Linked DNA regions of Homo sapiens: regions 1 and 2 are each linked to region 3. Evidence: fine-mapped expression QTL. A gene starts in region 3. Each other region holds a variant in brackets. All regions are shown on one strand. Distances are between the middles of the regions.

Region 1 (7,103 bases), 120 kb before region 3:
ATGATGGGTTGTCTCTTTACACTGTCATTTTCTATCAAGTTTCTAGGGTTGGACTTTACAAAATAGGCCAAGCAAATTCCTATGCTGCCAAAACCTCAAGCAAAGTTTCTGAGGGTGTCTCAAGGACTTCTGGGTTCCATTTAAAACCTTCCCTCAAAAATTAGTTTCTTCCTTGTGGCATATGAGAAAAATTAACCTCTCAGATTTGAAGCTGATGCTTAATACTTGCCACCATCCATGAACAGTCAAACTCAACAGCTGTTCAAAGGTGGCTTGAATGAACCCAGTGGGTCCATTCAAAACCCTGTTATGCGACTCTACTGCACATCTCTGTTGGTCAAAAGCCCCTTCATCCTTCAAAGTCTAATGCCTTACATGAAGATCTCCTCTCTTTCAGAGCCCATACCACAATGGTCATTTTTTTTTTTTTTTTTTTTTTTTTTGAGATGAGTCTTGCTCTGTCGCCCAGGCTGGAGTGGTGTGGCACAATCTCAGGTCACTGCAAGCTCCACCTCCCAGGTTCATGCCATTCTCCTGCCTCAGCCTCCCAAGTAGCTGGGAATACAGGCGCCCGCCACCTCACCCGGCTAATTTTTTTTTGTATTTTTAGTAGAGACGGGATTTCACCGTGGTCTCGATCTCCTGACCTCATGATCCGCCTGCCTCGGCCTCCCAAAGTGCTGGGATTACAGGCGTGAGCCACCGTGCCGGGCCAATGGTCACATTTTTATTGCTCTCCTTTATACTGCAGTAATTTGTGATCTGTTTTCTTGTTTTTGTTTTTTGGTTTTGGGTTTTTATTATTTTGTTTTCTTTTGTTTTGAGATGGAGTCTCCCTGTGTCACCCAGGCTGGAGTGCAGTGGCGCAATCTCGGCTCACTGCAAGCTCTGCCTCCTGGGTTCATGCCATTCTCCTCCCTCAGCCTCCCCAATAGCTGGGACTACAGGCGCCTGCCACCACGCCCAGCTAATTTTTTGTTTTTGTGTTTTTAGTAGAGATGGGGTTTCACCGTGTTAGCCAGGATGGTCTTGATCTCTTGACCTTGTGATCCACCCGCCTCACCCTCCCAAAGTGCTGGGATTACAGGTGTGAGCCACCACACCTAGCCTTTTATTATTATTATTTTTTTTTTTTTTTGAGATAGGGTCTTGCTCTGTGGCCCAGGCTAGAGTGTCATGATCTTTGGTTCACTGTAACCTCTAGCTTTGGGCTCAAGTGATTCTCCCAATCCAGCATCCTAAGTAGCTGAGACTACAAGTGCACCACCATGCTTGGCTAATTTTTAATTTTTTTGGTAGGATGAAATCTCACTGTATTGCCCAGGCTGTTCTTTAATTTGTGTGCTCCAGTGATCCTTCCACCTCAACCTCTCAAAGTGCTGGACTTAAAGGCATGAGCCACCATGCCCAGTTGATTTTGTCCTTCTTAAACTTCAAGATTCTTAAGGGTGGATATATATTTATTTCATCCTTTTGTGTGCATAGGACCTGCCCCTGTACAGAGCAGATAACCAACAAATATTGGTATAATTTTTTTTTTTTGAGATGGAATCTCACTTTGTCACCCAGGCTGGAGTGCAGTGGCTCAATCTTGGCTCACTACAACTTCTGCCTCCCAGGTTCAAGCAATTCTCATGCCTCAACCTCCTGAGTAGCTGGGATTACAGGTGTGTGCCACCATGCCCAGCTAACTTTGCATTTTTAGTAGAGACGAGGTTTCACCATGTTGGTCAGGCTGGTCTCAAACTCCTGACCTCAGGTCTGATCCGCCCACCTCAGCCTCCCAAAGTGCTGGGATTACAGGCATGAGCCACCACGCCCAGCCCAAATATTGATACAAATGAGTTTAATCTTGGTAGAATCCCCCTAGGTCCTGCTGTGACACCTAATGTTTCTCGGCCAAGGATGCAAGGAGGAAGGAAGGAAGGAAGGAAAAGAGGAAAGCCAGAAGGAAGAAAGGAATGCAGGGAAGGAAAAATACTGTTTTTACTCAAACACGTTTAAATACTAGAGCTTCTTAGTAGGTGTGAAATGCTCTGTTGAAATCACGGTAACATCATAATAATACGGAACCCAGTGTTAGCTTCCCCTAAAGATAAAGGTCATTTTAAACAAGAACTGAATAAACACCGTTCTCTCCCTGCCTGCTGCCTCTTCCTATGCATTTTACAATCATGCATAGAAAAAGTGTCCTTTTCTATGTACGTGTCATTTTCTATGCATGGTTGTAAAATGAGTAAACAAAAAGACACTTACTGCAATTTAGGATACAGATAAGCTTGTTTCCTTGCAACTGAGTCTCATTTCGTTTTGATTCAGAACCCTAATGTTGCTTGGGTTTTCTCTATAGCTTTAAGATTGTGAATGAAGAAAAATAATAAAGTGCTGCTTTATCCCTCTGGAAGTGCCATGACTTCTCTGGTATGTGAACATCTGTATGTTCTCTCCTTAGAGCGGGAACCTTGGTCATGTGATGGCGTTTCCTCCAAATATAACATCCATCTGTCCGGATCTGGATTTTTCATTATCAAATAGATTCTGCAGCTTTCTGCAGTAGCTTCTTCTGCCTTCACTGCAAGGCTGCGATAAGCCACAGTCCTCACTCGCTCACACTATGCAATTATAAAGATTTGGGGGAAGACAGTCAAAAAGAAAATCAGTCTTGAAGTGGTAGCAAGAGTGATTTCCATAAACTGTAAAAAGATTTCCTGACCAAGAAGGTAGCCTGAGAACACAGGCTCAAAGACATGTGGTCTTAGTCCCAAGGCCTATGCAAAGCACACAGCACAGGAAATAAAGGGTTTTTTTTTTTCTAAGACAGTCATATGTTAGATGCCAACAAAGCTATGATGGAATCTGATGCCTTTTGGGTACGTAGTTGATGTGAAACAGAACCCATTTGGGGGTTTACTTGGTAGGATTTGGGAACCTACCCAAAATGTGTAGACAGAATTGATAGGGCCTGGTCAAAGCAGGAGGCTCAGCCTAGAGAAGCGGATATGACTAGGTCCTAAGTTCCTCAAGATATGAAGACTTCAGGGATTTAAATTATGTATCAAATTTTGTACATTTTCCTGGAACAAGAATCCATCCCTAGAAAGTAAAAATTTAACTGTAGTTGACCAAGGAGTTAGACTCTCTAAGTAGGCAAAGAGAGAAAAAAAGAAAGCAGGGGCTGGTCCTATGGAGGTAAAAATGTGACAGTGAGGGACATTGTGGAGGGCCAGGAAGTTAAAATTCACAGCCATTCTATCTAATGTATCAGGGCCTTCCAGGAGAGGTGAGTGGGTCAAATGTAAAGAGTGAGGGTCTAGTGGCTGTGTTTATCTCATCCCTCTGGCGTACCCCACTGTGATCTCACAGACTTCTGAAGGGCAGAGACTTTATGATGTGGCACGATCAGATATCCTCTGACTCTTGAATATTTAATGATGGGATGCCTTCCAGTTGCTCACTTCCTTTGTTACTTATAGTCCCCATGATCTCAATAGGATGGAGATGCTATGGCTTTATTCCAGAAACTGTCCTACAGCAGGCCTCAGATAAAAACTAAAGGAGGGAGAGTGGTAAACACATTGACGATGGAGGTGTAAATGGTAGCTATTTTCACAATCTGATGTGAGAAGGTTCAAGAGCATCATTGTCCATTGATTTGCTGTAGACAATTTCAGATACCACACCATTACCAGGATCACTGAATGGTGTTACAGCTTCACTTCCACTACATGGGAAATACATCAGTCACCAATACTTCAGTGTGAATCAGTATTCCCTGTTTTCCTCAACTGAGACTATGTTGAGAAGGCATGCTTTTAAATAAGAGTGAGGAGGCCTGTAATCCCAGCTACTTAGGAGGCTGAGGCAGGAGAATCACGTGAACCAGGAGGTGGAGGTTGCAGTGAGCCAAGATGGCACCATTGCGTTCCAGCCTGGGCAACAAGAGCGAAACTTTGTCTCAAAAAAAAAAAAAAA[G/AG]ATCTAATGTTAATGGACTGAGTGGGGAAACCCAGCAAGGCCTGTCTGTCTAGATTCTTCTTGGCCTCTCTGAGCATGGATTCCTTCTTTCTGGGTATGGGGCGGGATCCTCTCTGGAATGGGGGTATTATGACCTACAATTTCTTTATGGCCAGATTTTACACAGAAAGGCAGGGGAGGTGGGAAAGAAGTTCGAGTAATATTTTTAGGTTTTATGTCTGGCTTTGGGGAAAAGGGGTTCTGGTTTCTATGACTGTCCTTGGGGAAGAGGGACTCCAGTTTCTACGGGTAGCCATTGGGGAGATTGAGGGGCCAGAGACAGGAGGGTGGGAGAAAGAGAGAGAGAGAGAGAGAGAGCTGCCTCTGAGGCCTTCATTTTGAGGTATTGTTTTTTTGTGGGTCTACACAACCATAAAATGGACCTGACAAAGGGCCTAATGGAAATAAACTGAGACCTTGATGCTACTGTAAACCAGCACTGAAACCTGAATCACCTTTGCTTAAGTGAGTCTTGATATCACCTGCATTGTTTAAGGCACTTTAATCTCAAACCCAATAATGTCTGTGGTCTAATGCAGGAAATAATATAGAAACCAAGATTACATTCCGTTCTTAGGGCTGGTCCTGGGCCAGTCTAAATCCAGTTAAATTTGCTTCTAGGGTCATTCAAAGCATCCCTCGCCTTGCTGCTGGCTTTCTATTGAATCCGTCTTCATTTACCCACTGTTTCACTCCTTCTATTCTGCTCTCATCTTTTAAATGTTTTTATCCTTCTCCTCATTCTTATTTATTTTTAATTTTATTTATATTATATATATATATATAGTGTGATAGAATTTTGCTGTTTCGCCCACGCTGGAGAGAAGTGGCTCAATCTCGGCTCACTGCAAACTTTGCCTCCCGGGGTTCAAGTGATTCTCGTGCCTTAGCCTCCCAAGTAGCTGGGCTGGGATTACAGGCATGCACCACCATGCCCAGCTAATTTTTGTATTTTTAGTAAACACGGGGTTTCGCCGTGTTGGCCAGGCTGGTCTTGAACTCCTGACCTCAGGTGATCCACCCGCCTTGGCCTCCCAAAGTGCTGGGATTACAGGCGTGAGCCATGCGCCCAGCCCAGCATTAGATCTTATCCATTTTGTCCAGTCATATTTCTACATGGCTGTGCATACTTTTTTTAACCTAAGCACAAAAATGGACAGTCTCCCCTGTACCTTTGGGTCTTCATTCTGAAGGCTCCCATGTCACATAAAATTTTTATTAAATGAATTTGTATGATTTTTCTCCTATTAATCTGCCTCTTGTCCGTGATTTTCTGCAAAGGTTCAGAAGGCAAAGGGGAAGCTTTTCCTTGGTCTCTGGTTGCCACCAATCCTTCATACTTCCTGACTTCCATATTCAGGGAGAGAGAAGAAATAAGCCAGGCACAGTGGCTCACGCCTGTAATCCCAGCATTCTGGGAGGCTGAGGTGGGTGGATCACGAGGTCAGGAGTTCGAGACCAGCTTGGCCAATATGGTGAAACCCCATCTCTACTAAAAATACAAAAAAAAAAAAATAGCTGGGCATGGTGGTGCGCACCTGTAATCCCAGCTACTCAGGAGGCTGAGGCAGGAGAATCACTTGAACTCAGGAGGCATAAGTTGCAGTGAGTCGAGATCGCACCATTGCACTCCAGCCTGGGCGACAGAGCAGGACTCCATCTCAAAAAAAAAAAAAAGTCCTAAATGAAACACAAATATTTAGGCCAGGAGCAGTGGCTCACGCCTGTAATCCCAGCACTTTGGGAGGCCAAGGTGGGCAGATCACGAGGTCAGGAGTTCCAGACCAGCCTGGCCAACATACTGAAACCTGTCTCTACTAAAAATACAAAAACTTAGCCTGGCGTGGTAGCAGGCATCTGTAATCCCAGCAACTTGGGAGGCTGAGGCAGGAGAATCACTTGAACCCGGGAGGTGGAGGCTGCAGCGAGCCAAGATCATACCACTGTACTCCAGGCGGGCAACAGTGTGAGACTCTGTCTCAAAAAAATAAATAAATAACAAAATAACAAAACAAACATGGAAATTTATTCCCCAAAAGCTCCCAGAAAATTAAATTCTCATGTGTCATTGTTCATAATTTGGTCACATGCCAGTTCCTGAATAATTTCCTGCAGTGGGGAAATGCCAAGTGTTGATTAACCCAAACCAACAACCAATCTCTTTAGCAAAGGGGTTGAGACAGGATTAAACAAACATGGCCCACCCATGGAGCTGGAGGTGGAGTCAATTTTCTGCATGCCAAAGCACATAGCTGCTACCCAGTGGGAGAGAGTCAACAAATGTCCATTTTACTACTCTTTTACTAGTTTTAGTTTTTGACAAATATTGAGAGTAAAGAAAAAGGAACTACAATATTTAGTGCCGCTTATGTTTTACATATGCTAACCCATTCAAGCCTTACAACTTACAACATCTTTTGAGGTATTATGATTTCCATTTTACTGATAAGAAAACTGAGACATCAGTTAACTTACCTATACACAGCTAGTAAAAGGTAGAGCTAAAGCACACACCTAGGTCTGCCCACATTCAAATAGTCTTACCAACTGTTGTCTGATAGATGATTACTAATCTATTGTCTGAGGAATACACTGTTATTTATGAAAAGCAGAACTCAATTCATTTTAGCAAGCATTTATTGAATATCCACTCTGTATATGGAGCACTCTGCTAGGCCTTGCATTTCCCTAGGTAAGGTACATCCAGAAGTGTACAGAAATTTCCAGTCTGCAAAATGAAATAATAATTAGATAGTGAAAAGCAAACAAATATCAGGCAGAGAAAAAGTGTGATTGGGGAAATTGGTGAATGTGAGATATGGAGTGTGCGTGCTCCATCTATAGACCTCTAGAATTCATGCTACCCATGCCTAGATTTTGTTCACAGGTCCCAGGGTACAAACTTCAGCTTAACAGGAAGTTGAGCATGGTTCCACATCAGATATGTGCTTTCATGGAAAATAAGTACAGTTCCAAGTGCCTCAGTCAGGGTAACCAATATTTGACGTGTGTATTGCTATTCAACCATCCTCTCCACACACACACATACCTTACCCACCATGTCAGACATTACTAATCAATTGCTGCATTTT
Region 2 (7,103 bases), 74 kb before region 3:
TCTTTCTATCTTTTATTTAAAAAAAAAAAAAAAGCTGGAAAAATCTTTGACTATGAGCAGCCCTACTTCTAATGTCTTTAGCTTTCACACTTTTCCCAAAATTATGTTCCTAAAACTAGCTCTGGTGGCAAAGTGCGTGGCATTCTAGGGTTCAAAATCCGTGTAACGTTGACCAAGTTTATTAACCATTCTAAGCTTTAGGGAATAATAACAGTACCCATGTCATAGGATTATTGATAGAATAAAAGGAAGTAATTTATGAAAAATGCTTAGTACAAAGATGAGCAAATAGTATTAATAAGTATTTAATAAACATTAGTTTTCATTAGTAATGCTACTATTATCATCCTCATACTTATTGTCATCACCATTCTTATTATTATTTTATTCATCCTACCTCAAAAAGTCCTCATGGCTCACTAATGCCCACAGAATGTTGTCTGAACTCTACAGCAGGCATTTAAGCCAATCATCTTTTAATGCATCTGTGTGTGTGTGTGTGTGTGTGTGTGTGTGTGTGTGTGACAGAGTCTTGCTCTGTTGCCCAGGCTGGAGTGCAATGGTGCGATCTTGGCTCACTACAACCTCCGCCTCCTGGGTTCAAGCTGTTCTCCTGCCTCAGCCTCCTGAGTAGCTGGGATTACAGGCGCTCACCACTAAACCGGCTAATTTTTTTAGTAGAGACGAGGTTTCACCATGTTGGTCAGACTTGTCTTGAACTCCCAACCTCAGGTGATCCTCCCGCCTTGGCCTCTCAAAGTGCTGGGATTACAGGCATGAGCCACCGTGCCCAACCTTATTGCATCTCAATTCATTCCCTGTATCCCATTACCACCCGCCTGCCCCATACTACAGCCTCAGCAAGCCATTTACTGTTATCCCTCATGCTTTACCTAAGACCACTCCTATTTCTTGGCCTGGCTGTGGCTCATGCCTGTTATCCCAGCATTTTGGAAGGCCAAGGCAGGAAGCTCTCTTGAGGCCAGGAGTTCGAGACCAGTCTAGGCAACATAGCAAATTTTGTCTCTACAAAAAAATTTTAAAAATTAAAAAATCATCTGGGCATGGTGGCACCCGCTTGTAGTCCCAGCTACTCAAGAGGCTGAAGTGGGAGGATTGCTTAAGCTCAGGAGTGTGAGGCTGTGATGAGCCATGATCATGCCACTGTACTCCAGCCTGGATGACAAAGCGAGATGCTGTCTCAAAAATAAATAAAGCCATTCCTTCTTTTTGTATTGCCTTTCTCTCAAATTTCTGGCTGTCAAAATATTACCTGTCTTTAGGACTCAGCTCAAATTAGGGGCAGTACAGCATAGTCTTTTCTTTTTTTTTTTTTTTGAGACGGAGTGTCTCACTCTGTCATCAGGCTGGAGTGCAATTCTCACTGCAACCTCCGCCTCCTGGGTTCAACTGATTCTCGTACCTCAGCCTCCTGAATATGTGGGACTACAGGCACGCACCACAACATCCGGCTAATTTTCATATTTTTAGTAGAGACGGGGTTTCACCATGTTGGCCATGATGGTCTCGATCTCCTGACCTGGTGATCCATCTACCTCGGCCTCCCAAAGCGCTGGGATTACAGGCGTGAGCCTCCGTGCTCGGCCTTTTTTTTTTTTTTTTTTTTTTTTGAGACAGAGTCTTGCTCTGTCACCCAGGCTGGAGTGCAGTGGCCCAATCTCAGCTCACTGCAAGCTCCGCCTCCCAGGTTCACGCCATTCTCCTGCCTCAGCCTCCTGAATAGCTGGGACTACAGGCGCCTGCCACCACGCCCGGCTAATTTTTTGTGTTTTTGGTAGAGATGGTGTTTCACCATGTTAGCGAGGATGGTCTCGATCTCCTGACCTCGTGATCCGCCCGCCTCCCCTCGGCCTCCCAAAGTGCTGGGATTACAGGCAGGAGCCACCGTGCCCGGCCCTTTTTTTTTTTTTTTTTTTTTTTCTCTAATTAGCCCTAGTACTCTAGAAAACAGAGCCCAAGGCAGGGATTAAAGTGCTAATGCTTCCTTTGAGAAGTGCAAACCCACAGCAGCTGGGATGGGGAAAAGGGGAAGTGGGGCAAGAAAAGATGTGGAGCAATATAAAGTAATGTTTTACTCTGTTGTACAATATAAAGTAATATATTGCACAATATAAAGTAATATATAAAGTGCAATATAAAGTGCAATAATATAATGTATATATTATATATTAATATATATTAATGTTATATAATTATAATATTATAATACTATATTAAGGTAATATATAAAGTGCAATAATAATATAAAATTGCAATATAAAGTAATGTTTTACTCTGTTGTGCGGGTGCGTGCTCAGCACACAGAACTTCTCTCACATTGAGGTTGTCCGTGGAAGAGAGGAAGGTAGACGAAACCCTGTCTCCCGCTTCCAGTTGGCCAAAGTGTGTTTTTTGTTGTTGCGGTTTTGTTTTGTTTTATTTGAGACAGAGTCTCACCTTGTCACCCAGGCTGGAGTGTAATGGCGCGATCTCGGATCACTGCAACCTCTGCCTCCCAGAGTTCAAACAATTCTCCTGCCTCAGCCTCCGGAGTAGCTGGGATTACAGGCGCCCACCACTACGCCCAGCTAATTTTTGTATTTTTAGTAGAGCCACGTTGGCCAGTCTGGTCTGGAACTTCTGACCTCAGGTGATCCGCCCACCTTGGCCTCCCAAAGTGCTGGAATAAC[A/G]GGCATGAGCCACTGCACACGGCCCTAATTGGCGAAAGTTTGCTCTGCAGGCAGAAACTACCTTGCATTCCTGCTTGCATCATTCTTTCCTTTTGCCTATCTGATCCTATGCCCTGCAGCACAGCATTTCATCCAAATCCGGAAGCAGTGGGAGAAGCCAGACATTCTGGAAGAGCGTCTGCTTGATCCAGCTGCAGAGCACTAGCCAAGGGGGAGGGCCTAGTTTGTCCTCAGCTGCGGTATGATTGAGGAGGTGGACCATGCCAGAGGATATGAGAAGTCACAAAGCATCTGTGTCCGTGCAGCATCTAAGAGAGTGGGTTCTAAAGAACATAGGAAAAGACCATTTCCTACCACTCACCAGCTGCGTGACCTGGGTAAAACACTTTATGCCAATGTTTTTTCTTTTTTCTTTTACCTTCTTATTTTTAAATAATTCTAAACTTACAGGAAGTAGCAAAAATAGTACAAAATTTCCACTATACCCATCACTCACTGCTATGGACTGAATGGTGTCTCCCCACAATTCATATGTTAAAGCCCCAACCCTCAGTGTGATGGTATTTAGCCTGGTGCCTTTAGGAGGTGATTTGGTTTAGATGAGGTCATGAGAGTTGGGTCTCATAATGGAATTAGTGCCCTTAGAAGAAGAGGCACCAGAGAACTTGCTACCCCCCTGCCATGTGAGAACACAGTAAGAAGACAGCCATCTGTAAGCCAGGAAGAGAGTTCTTATTAGAACCTGATCATGCTGTACCTTGATCTTGGACCTCCATCCTCCAGAACTATAAAAAAAATAGACTTCTGTTGTGTAAGCCACCTAGTCCGTGGTATTCTGTTATAGCAGCCCAACCTGCCATATGTCACCAATTGTTAACATTTTGCTGCATTTGTTTTATCATTCTTTCCTTCTCTCTCTCTCTCTCCATACACATGAATGCACACACATCTAATTATTACAGTTTTCTGAAGTATTTGAGAGGAAATTTATGACATCATGCCCCTTTATTCCTAAATACTTCAGAGTAAATTTCCTATTAACAAGGACATTCGGCTGGGTAAGGTGGCTCACGCCTGTAATGCCAGCACTTTGGGAGGCCGAGGCAGGCAGATCACCTGAGGTCAGGAGTTCAAGACCAGCCTGACCAACATGGAGAAACCCCGTCTCTACTAAAAATACAAAATTAGCCGGACATGGTGGCACATGCCTGTAATCCCAGCTACTCGGGAGGCTGAGGCAGGAGAATGGCTTGAACCCGGGAGGCAGAGGTTGCTGGGCAACAGGAGTGAAACTCCACCTCCAAAAAAAAAAAAAAAAACCAAGGACATTCCTGGCCAAGTGCAATGGCTCATGCCTGTAATCCCAGCACTTTGGGAGGCTGAGGCAGGTGGATCACAAGGTCAGGAGTTCAAGACCAGCCTGGCCAAGATGGTGAAACCCAGTCTCTACTAAAATTACAAAAATTAGCTGGGCGTGGTGGCGAGCGCCTGTAATCCCAGCTACTTGGGAGGATGAGGCAGAGAATTGCTTGAACCTGGGAGGCAGAGGTTGCAGTAAGCCAAGATCACACCACTGCACTCCAGCCTGGGCAACAAAGCGAGACTCCTTCTCAAAAAAAAAAAAAACAAGGACATTCCTTATATAACCAGAAAATAATGATCAAAATCAAGAGATTTAGCATTCATACAATAATACGATTATCTATCTAATCTACAGTCCATATTGACATCTCACCAATTGACCCAGAAACGTCCTTTATAGCAAATTCTCCCCATGTTTGTTCTTATTTGGTTAATGGGAACAATGACAGTGCCCTCTCATAAGATTGTTATGAGAATGACATGGTGTGACATATATAAAACACTCCAATACAGTGCCTGGCTTATAGGAAAAGTTCGACAACTGCTAGCTACTTCTATCATGTTTATAATTTCTTCAGTGAAAACTTTTCCAGTCCCCTTTCCGTCAATTCAGAATCAGCCTCTTCCAACTATATTTTCTTATCAGTGTATTTCTACATTCTTGATTGTACTTTCACGTATAGCCTTTTTTTTTTACAAGCTTTTAAAGACCCATTCCTAATTCCTCTTTGCTTCTTCCAATGGCACCAAGCATAGCACCTTGTACATAATAAGCCTCCATCAATTTTGGCAGAATTTAATTTCTTTGGATGAAGTGGAGGGTTGATTAAGGTGACTAGAGGAAATGTATCTCACAGTATTGCAATAGTAGATACAATTCTGCTTTTAAAGAGTTTATGTTTCATGTCAGGGAGAAATACACAAGTGAAAAGTTACAGAAAATAAGAAGATAACATTATATATCTTAAAACAGCCTCTGAGAAAGGTTTGAAAAGTAGGAGGAATAAAGAAAGAGGAGTTCTGGGAGCTCAGAGAAGCAAAAGGATCACATGGGAAGGAAAATAAAAAACTTCCAGAGACTGCTCAGCATGGCCTCCTCAGCAGAAGGGACTTCACGGAGGCCTGATAAACTAAAGTACTAAAAGACAAAGTTCTCAGTTCTACTTTCCCAAGGCTGTGGATCTGGGAAAACAGTTGAATTACATCTTGGCCTTCCTTGCTGAGATTGGGTTTTGGCCAAAGGACATGAGCAAAAGTGATGTGAGCCATTTCCAGGCCTGGCCCATAAAAAGCTCCCATGTGTGATCTCCCACTATTTCCCATTCTCTAGTAGCTTTGGAGGCCACATGTAGAAGATATTAATGCACAGGTAGAAAGAACATGAGTCTCTGCGTGACTACATGGAGCAGAATCCCCAGCCCCATCAACCCATATTGCTGTGACAAGAATGAGGAATCAACTTTACTGCGTTCCACCACTGAAACATGGATGTCATTAGTTTCAGCAGCTACCATTACATGCCCTGTCCAGTGCACAGTTAGAACTGAAGGCCAGATTCAGAAAACCTGTGTTTATATCCTAGCTGTGCCACTTAGCTACAGGTGAGCCATGGCAAGTCACTTCGGCTCGGAACTGCTGTGAGGATTATATGGAAGAAGACTTTGTAAACTGTGAAAGTGCTATAAATGTTAGATACTATTAGTATTAGTCCATTCTTCCTAAGTTGGTGAAAATAACAGTTTCCAAGAATAGAATACAGGGATTAGTCATTCTTTCCAAACTAATAAAAAGAACACAGTCTGGGATCTCATGTTGCTGATATTAACTCGAGTTGTTGGAAAAGAAATTTGGGTGGGTCTATGGAAGGCCAATGATTCACTTCAGAATTCATGGAGTTACGTTACTGTTTTGTTCCTATGGAGAAACCTCTTTTTTTTTTCTTTTTTTATTTAGAGACAGGGTCTCACTCCATTACACGACTGGAATACAGTGGCAGGATCACAGCTAACTGTAATCTTGAACTCCTGGGCTCAAGCAATCCTCCTTCCTCAGCCTCCCAAGTAACTAGCACTATAGGAGTGTGCCATCATGCCCTGCTAATTTTTAAAATTTTTTATAGAGATGGGGGTCTTGCTATGTTGGCCAGGCTGGTCTCGAACTCCTTGCCTCAAGCAATTCTCCCTCCTTGGCTCCCCAAAGTTCTGAGATAACAGGCGTAAGCTACCGTGCCTGGCTAGGAAACCTTTTGTTTCTGAATATTTCATTAATTGTAGGTGTGAGGGTCAAGGGAAAGCTTTTTCTTTGGCCTTCTGAGAGTTATCTGAAAAGTCAAATCACGAAAGGCAAATTAACTAGAGAAAAGGCATACAAATGTACTTAACACATGTACAATGTATGCATGAGAAGTATCTCAGAGTAATTGCCCATCTCCAGTGTGGTTAGAAGCTTGTATACCACCTCCGCAAAACAGGCTATGGGAGGAGAAGAGAAATTCTGTTGAGGGGATTACAAGGGAGAATTAATAGATCTGGGAACAGGCATTAATTTGTTCTGCATCTATTTCTCTTTGAAGGTAAAAGGATCTGTTCAGATGTGGTAACATTCTTGGTCTTACTGGAAGGGGAAGAAAAACAATTGTTCCTTTTGGTGGGTTTGGATCTTAAGCAGATAAAGATTCTGGGAGAGGTGGTGGGGGGTGGGAGGGAGGGAGGGAGATCAGAGAGACCTTGAGACTTTTTTAATTTAGCATGTCAAAATGCCATATGTTGGTATTTTGGTTTTTGAGCCCCAACATAGGTAACTCCAACATTGGAATATCTTAAGAATTCAACTTTTAGGCCAGGTGTGGTGGCTGATGCCTGTAATCCTGGCACTTTGTGAGGCCAAGGTGGGAGGATCGCTTGAGCCCAGGAGTTTGAGACCAGCCTGGGCAACATGGCGAAACCCCACGTCTACAAAAAAAATACAAAAGTTAGCTGAGCATGATGGCATGCCCCTGTAGTCCCAGCTACTTGAGTGGCTAAGGCAGGAGAATCGCTTGAGGTGGAGGTT
Region 3 (6,698 bases):
CCCGTTGAGGCTGTTCTGGTACTCTTGAAAACACTATTCCAATGATTTTACTTTTCCTTATAGGATCAGATGATAGAAAACCTTTAAATATTAGCTATAACCAAGAAGAGGCAATGAAGATACATATAATTGCCAAAGAACCCTCTGCTAAAAGTTAAGAATGGTTTCACGTGGCCAGGTGCGGTGGCTCACACCTGTAATCCCAGCACTTTGGGAGGCTGAGGTGGGCAGATCACCTGATGTTGTCAGGAGTTTGAGACCAGCCTGACCAACATGGAGAAACCCCGTCTCTACTAAAAAATACAAAATTAGCCAGGCATGGTGGTACGTGCCTGTAATCCTAGCTACTTGGGAGGTTGAGGCAGGAGGATTGCTTGAACCAGGGAGGCAGAGGTTGCAGTGAGCCGAGATTGCACCATTGCACTCCAGCCTGGACAGCAAGAGTGAAACTCCGCCTCAAAAAAAAAAAAAAAAGAATGGTTTCACACTTTTCAAAATACCAAAGAAGCTGCTCTCTGTCTTTATAAACTATACCTTGGCCTATAGAGAATTGTTCTTGGGAAGACCGTTCACTCCTCAGGATGGGGATCTTGCCAAGGGGTTTTTAGGATTATCTACTGCTCCAGATACTCAGGAAGTATTCTGAATTTAGGATACAGCTAAAACTCATTAACTTTAGGTACTACCACTTCATTGCTACTGATGAATTTAGGTTTACATTTACCTTTGTTTAGCAAATGTTTCCCTGTGCCATATTTCAAATTAATTTTTTTTTTTTGAAACGGAGTCTGGACCTGTGCCCCAGGCTGGGGTGCAATGGCGTGATCTTGGCTCACTGCAACCTTGGCCTCCGGGGTTCAAACAATTCTCCTGTCTCAGCCTCCTGAGTAGCTGTGACTATAGGTGCCTGCCACCATGCCCAGCTAATTTTTGTATTTTTAGTAGATATAGGGTTTCACCGTGTTGGCCAGGCTGGTCTCAAACTCCTGACCTCAGGTGATCCACTTGCCTTGGCCTCCCAAAGTGTTGGGATTACAAGCATGAGCCACTGCACCTGGCCCCAGATGAATATTTAAAATATTCAAGAATACAATTTACCTTTCAGCACCTTGGAACACTTTATAGCCATCTCTGGTTGCACAAAAGCAATTTTAACACATTATCTTCTTGAATGAACTTTGGCTGAGGTTGAATTAAGTGGGCAACTGAGTGATAAATTTAATAATTCAGATCTTTGCTACATTCCTCTTCTAGCAGTTGGGATGAAATGAGGAGTGGAAAAAGTGCATGGCAACAAAGACGTCACTAAAAAAATATTTGTGGATTAAATAAACCAATAATTTTTTCTTCTTGCAAGATAGATGAACAGAAATTCATTGTTTAGCAAGGTCTGCCAAGCATACATTTTTAAGACCTTCTTGAAGCTGACTATTTAACACTTTCAACTCTGGCACCATGATTCTTGACTCCTACTTTGTTCTTGTTACTATGGCCACATGCTCAGCTGTCACCTAAGATGCTCTTAGATCTTAAGAAGAGCAGATGTATGCCCCACCTGTACATTTACTCATTTAACACATGTGCTGAGAGTTTACAGGGGCCAAACACTCACGTAGGCATAGGGATATCTGAGAAAAAACCAAAAACCAAAAACCAAATTTGCTGTACACATGAAGCTTACATGGAGCTCACATTTGTGCGTGTGTGTGTGTGTGTGTGTGTGTAGACAATAAGCATAATAAATCATAAAATATATAGAATGTTATAGCCAGATGCGGTGGCTCACACCTGTAATCTCAGCACTTTGGGAGGCCGAGGCAGGTGGATCACTGGAGGTCAGGAGTTCTAGACCAGCCTGGCCAACATGGTGAAACCCCATCTCTACTAAAAATACAAAAAATTAGCTAGGTGTGGTGGCGGGCGCCTGTAATCCCAGCTACTCTGGAGGCTGAGGCAGGAGAATTGCTTGAACCTGGAGGATGGAGGTTGCAGTGAGCCGAGATTGTGCCACTGTACTCCAGCCTGGGCAACAGAGTGAGACTCCATCTCAAAAATAAATAAATAAAAAAGAATGGTGCCAATAGTAAGAGCAGTTCCACTCACCAGAACTCAAAACCAGTATTTCTATGGGCTTCAGCTTCCTCATCTGTAAAATGGAGCTATAACATATTTTGTAGTATTGTTTTTTTGTTTGTTTGTTTTTGCTGCTCCAGTCAACGAAAGAGACACACTTTATTGAGGCTCCAGGGAGGCTGCCGTTCGAGGAAGGAAGAGCCTTGACCTTCTTGGGTTACAGGTTGTTGGTGTGGTCACACCTCTTGCAGCAGTTGACAGCACGGGGGTGCAGGCAAGCATAGCACTTGCGGCAGATCATCTTGTCACAGTTGTATTTCTGGGAGAGCTGGCAGAGGGAAGGCTCAATAATGCCACCTTACAGGCGCAGCACCAGGTGCAGGGTGGACTCTTTCCAGATGTTGCAGTCTGAGAGAGTTCGGCCATCCTCCAGCTGTTTGCCAGCAAGTATCAGATGCTGCTGGTCAGGTGGGATACCTCCTTGTCTTGAATTTTGGCTTTGACATTCTCAATGGTGTCACTTGGCTTGACGTCAAGAGTGATGGTCTTGCCCGTGAGGGTCTTCACAAAGATCTGCGTCTCTGCGTCTGCAGCTCAGTTGCCTTGCCGAAGAAAAAGATGACGGCAGATATTTTGCAGTATTGAGAGGATTAGAAATGAAATATGTTTGCCAAATGTCACAGTCTCTAATTGTAGGCCTCTTTACATAGTAGCTATTAATAGAGGCACATCTGCTCTTGTACAAGTAAGTGAACAATGTGTGCTGGACTGGAAGTAACTCTCTGGGAAATTTAGGACAAAAGGGGACTAGGGCCCAAAGAAGGAATGAGTCATCCAGCATACCTAGCTACCTATTGCTGACAAAAAGCTTTACTAATACCCAGTTGGAGATGAATAGGATGTGAGCTCTGGATCCGCTGATGTATTTATATATCCTTCCATTGCATGGCTTCAGTTCTTCCCAACTAAACCTCTCCTTATCTTTTTTTATTTTATTTTTTATTTTTTTGAGACAGGGTCTAGCTCTGTCACCCAGGCTGGAGTGCAGTGGCGTGATCTCAGCTCACTGCAACCTCTGCCTCCTGGGTTCAAGCGATTCTCCTGCCTCAGCCTCCTGAGTAGCTGGGATTACAGGTGCCTGCCACCATGCCTGGCTAATTTTTGTATTTTTAGTAGACACGGGGTTTCGTCATGTTGGTCAGGCTGGTCTCGAACTCCTGATCTCAGGTGATCCGCCCGCCTCGGCCTCCCAAACTGCTGTAATTACAGGCGTAAGCCACCGCGCCCGGCCAAATTTCTCATCTTTATGAAACACTCAAGAGAAACCTGTTAACAATAATGAAAATTATCAGCATGCTATGTGCCAGGCACTTTTATGAATATAAATCCCCTTAATCCTTCAATGAGCCTGCATGGCAGGTATTACAATCATCCCGTTACAGAAGGGATATTTGAGAGACGGCCTACAGGGTGGACTCAATAATGTGGCAGCTGGCCGGGTGTGGTGGCTCATGCCTGTAATCCCAGCACTTTGGGAGGCTGAGGCTGGTGGATCACCTTAGCTCAGGAGTTCGAGACCAGCCTAACCAACATGGTGAAACCCCGTCTCTACTAAAAATACAAAAAGTTGCCGGGCGTGGTGGCGCGCGTCTGTAGTCCCAGCTACTCAGGAGGCTGAGGCAGGAGAATAGCTTGAACCCAGGCAGCGGAGGTTGCAGTGAGCCGAGATCATGCCATTGCACTCCAACCTGGGCTGGTGCAAGACTCTGTCTCAAAAAAAAAAAAAAAAAAAAAAAAAGTGGCAGCTGTCGTGGTGCTCAGTGGGCGAGCAAGCACAGGAGGACACCTGGTCAAGTGTACCCCATCTTTCACGGTCCCTGAGTTGGGGTTCGTGCCTACTGGATTGACAGAAAAGAAACTTCCAGGAGTCGTGAAGACTCGTTAGTTGCTTCGGAGGGTTATCCTGGGCGTCCTTGACAGAGGTGGCGTCCTCCTTCCCTGCAGCCTCTAAAGAATGTAGTTAGGAGCCAAGGGAGGTGGTGACCCCCCACCCCATTGAGAACGTCAGGGGAGCTTCCGACTTGAAAAACTAGTTAGACGCTCAGCTTCGGTCAATTAAGCTTATACAAAGAGGGGCGGTGCGTCCTGAGGAGGTGGCACGGGGGAGGCGAGCGGAAGTCCGCCAGCCGCCGATTGGCTGGGACAAATGTCCGTCCCGCCTCCCTCCCGCCCCATCTCCCGGTGGCCTAGCGGCGCGGCCCGCGGGCGCGCTGAGGAGGCTGGCGGTGCCAGACTGGCAGGGGGCGTGACCCGAGGAGGCGGGGCGGGGGGGCGTGTCTTGCCTGGCCCCGGCGCCGGGCTCGTCACGGTTTGCGGCTCCGCCCCCGAACCCCTCCTCCTACGCGGCTCTCCTCCTTCCCGCTCGGTCCGCCGGTTCGCTCAGTTCTAGCTTCAGGTTCCACGCCGCGGCCTCGCTCTCCTACTAAAGCCAGCCCAGCAGTCGCAGCGCGCACACGCACGCCCCGCGTCTCCCGCGCCCGGCGCCCGGCTCTCCCCACGCGCGCACACCTCGCGCACGGACGCACCCACGTTTGTCCTCGCGCGCCGGGGGCTCGGCGGCGGCGGCAGGGGCAGCGGCAGAAGCAGGCAGACCGCGCGGGGCAGTACCGTAGCGGCCGTCACGGGCTGGCCGGCCGGCCATGGAGGCTGATGGGGCCGGCGAGCAGATGAGACCGCTACTCACCCGGGTAACGAGCAGGGTGAGGGCGCCGCGGCGGTGGGGCTCCTCCGCAGGGGGAGGGCGCGGGGCGAGGCAGACAAAGGCGGGGGGCGCGGCGGGCGTCGCGGCTCGGCCACCTCGTCCCAGGCCCGTCGCCCCTCCACCTCCCGGCGGCCGGCGCGCCTCGCCATCCCCTTTGTGTGGCGGCCTGGGGCGCGGGTGGGAGGGGGCCAGCGGCTGCGCTCGGGAGGCCCGAGTCGGGGCGGCCGGCGGCGCGCCGCGGGCATCCTCTGCGCGGCTCAGGCGGGACCCCGACATCCCCGCAGAGGCCGCCTGTGACCCCGACCATCCATCCCTTCCCTCAGCGCTCGCCTCCCCTGTTTCTTAGCGCGCTCCCCAGGCGGGGTCCCGGTTCCGGTTGCCTTGGCGCAGGAGTTTCAGATTAGCCCTCGAAAACCTATCTTTCTTCTCCTTCTAAGGAGGACGGCGGCTCCACCTGTCTCTAGCCCCAGGCAGTGGTGAAGAGCTGGTTGAATCTTTCCCCCTCTTTCCGAGTGTCCCCTCCCGCTCCGCGGTGCGCTTTGTTCGGTGAGTTCTCCGGCCGCGTGGACTGGCCGCGCTCCTTCCCGGCCAAGGCTCTTTCGCTGTTGCCTGCCGGGTCCGCCTTCTCCACTGGCTGGGACCCGGGGAGTATCCTCCTGCCGCAGGCCAAGTAGAAGGAGGAGGGTGTCCTGAGCTGTCTGGTGCTCCTTCTCTAACTCAGCTAGCAAGATCGCGTTTCCTACTGAGACTGGCTTTGATTTCAGGGTTAGAAGAGAATGGGGATGGACTTAAGGCCGGTGTTCCCATTTGTGATGATGGGTGAACGGCCCATGCTCAAGAAGCGGACTTCCTGCTTTCTTTAGAGCACATGCGTCCCCGCAGTTGTCTCTTTCTCCTTTCCAAGTTCGTGACTCAAAGGAGATGGAAGTATTCTAAATTTTCCTACTTCTAATTTTTACTATGCAACCAGCAAAGGCGGGAAGGTTGCAGGGAAAATTGTCCGGTCTTTCACAACTAAGAGGAAAATTACTTCTCCTATGTTTTTATTCAAGAGTTGTCTTTAAAACTGCCTGCCGGCTTTCCCTTTTAACTTTTAGGATTATAGTTAAGGTTATGGAAAGTAGTCATTCATTAGTTCAGTACGTTCATATAAGTTCTCTAACATAGAAGAAAACTCAGTCACCAGACAGTGAAGTCATTTAGCAGTGGTTATTGGAAGATAATTCACAGTGATGGTAATGGAATACTGGAAACTCATCCTAAATAATCTGTAATTATTATTATTATTATTTTGAGACAGAGTCTCGCTCTGTCGCCCAGGCTGGAATGCAGTGGTGCGATCTCGGCTCACTGCAACCTCCTCCTCCCAGGTTCAACCGATTCTCCCGCCTCAGCCTCCGGAGTAGCAGGAATTACAGGCACGCACCACTATGCCCAGCTAATTTTTTGTATTTTTAGTAGAGACGGGGTTTTGCCATGTTGTCCAGGCTGGTCTGGAACTCCTGACCTCAGGCAATCCACCCGCCTCGGCCTCCCAAAGTGCTAGGATTACAGGCGTGAGCCACCGCGCCTGGCCTTCTGTAATTCTTTGTGTAGCCTTTGAATAAACTGTTTTATAGTACTTTCTCTGTGTATTTCAAGTATGATGTTGTCTGTTCTTAAATTTATTTGCAAATTTTCAATTGAGCAGTAAAGTGCATTCGAGTTTTCACGGAGCTGGATAGAAACTATGGTGTGTTCTCAAATATTGCCTGCCTAGCTAGTAGAGAAAGCATGTGATAAGGCCATTGCCCTCCAAGTTATTCATTCATTCATTGTAATAACACTTATTTAGACTAGTGTTTATGCTATTTAAACTATTATT

What was found. PIP is the estimated chance that this variant, and not a neighbour inherited with it, causes the effect.
Region 1: its variant is fine-mapped to the expression of SLC4A7 in whole blood (INTERVAL, PIP 0.97).
Region 2: its variant is fine-mapped to the expression of SLC4A7 in whole blood (INTERVAL, PIP above 0.99). The same link has a PIP of 0.9 or more in blood mononuclear cells and monocytes.

What each region holds. Positions count from the first base shown.
Region 1 is chr3:27,606,706-27,613,808 of GRCh38, reverse strand. No RefSeq gene overlaps it. Among named protein-coding and RNA genes, the nearest start is that of LINC02084, 100 kb to the left of the region's middle. The variant G/AG (reference allele first, on the strand shown) is at 3,973.
Region 2 is chr3:27,555,789-27,562,891 of GRCh38, reverse strand. No RefSeq gene overlaps it. Among named protein-coding and RNA genes, the nearest start is that of SLC4A7, 75 kb to the right of the region's middle. The variant A/G (reference allele first, on the strand shown) is at 2,691.
Region 3 is chr3:27,482,201-27,488,898 of GRCh38, reverse strand. It overlaps SLC4A7 (solute carrier family 4 member 7), which reads left to right and starts at 4,515. Exons shown (of 26, transcript NM_001321103.2): 1 at 4,515-4,832. The coding sequence starts at 4,773. It also overlaps the pseudogene UBA52P4. RefSeq lists enhancers at 3,857-3,986, 4,465-5,241, 5,257-5,316, 5,347-5,556, 5,717-5,776 and silencers at 4,117-4,596, 4,627-4,986, 5,017-5,086.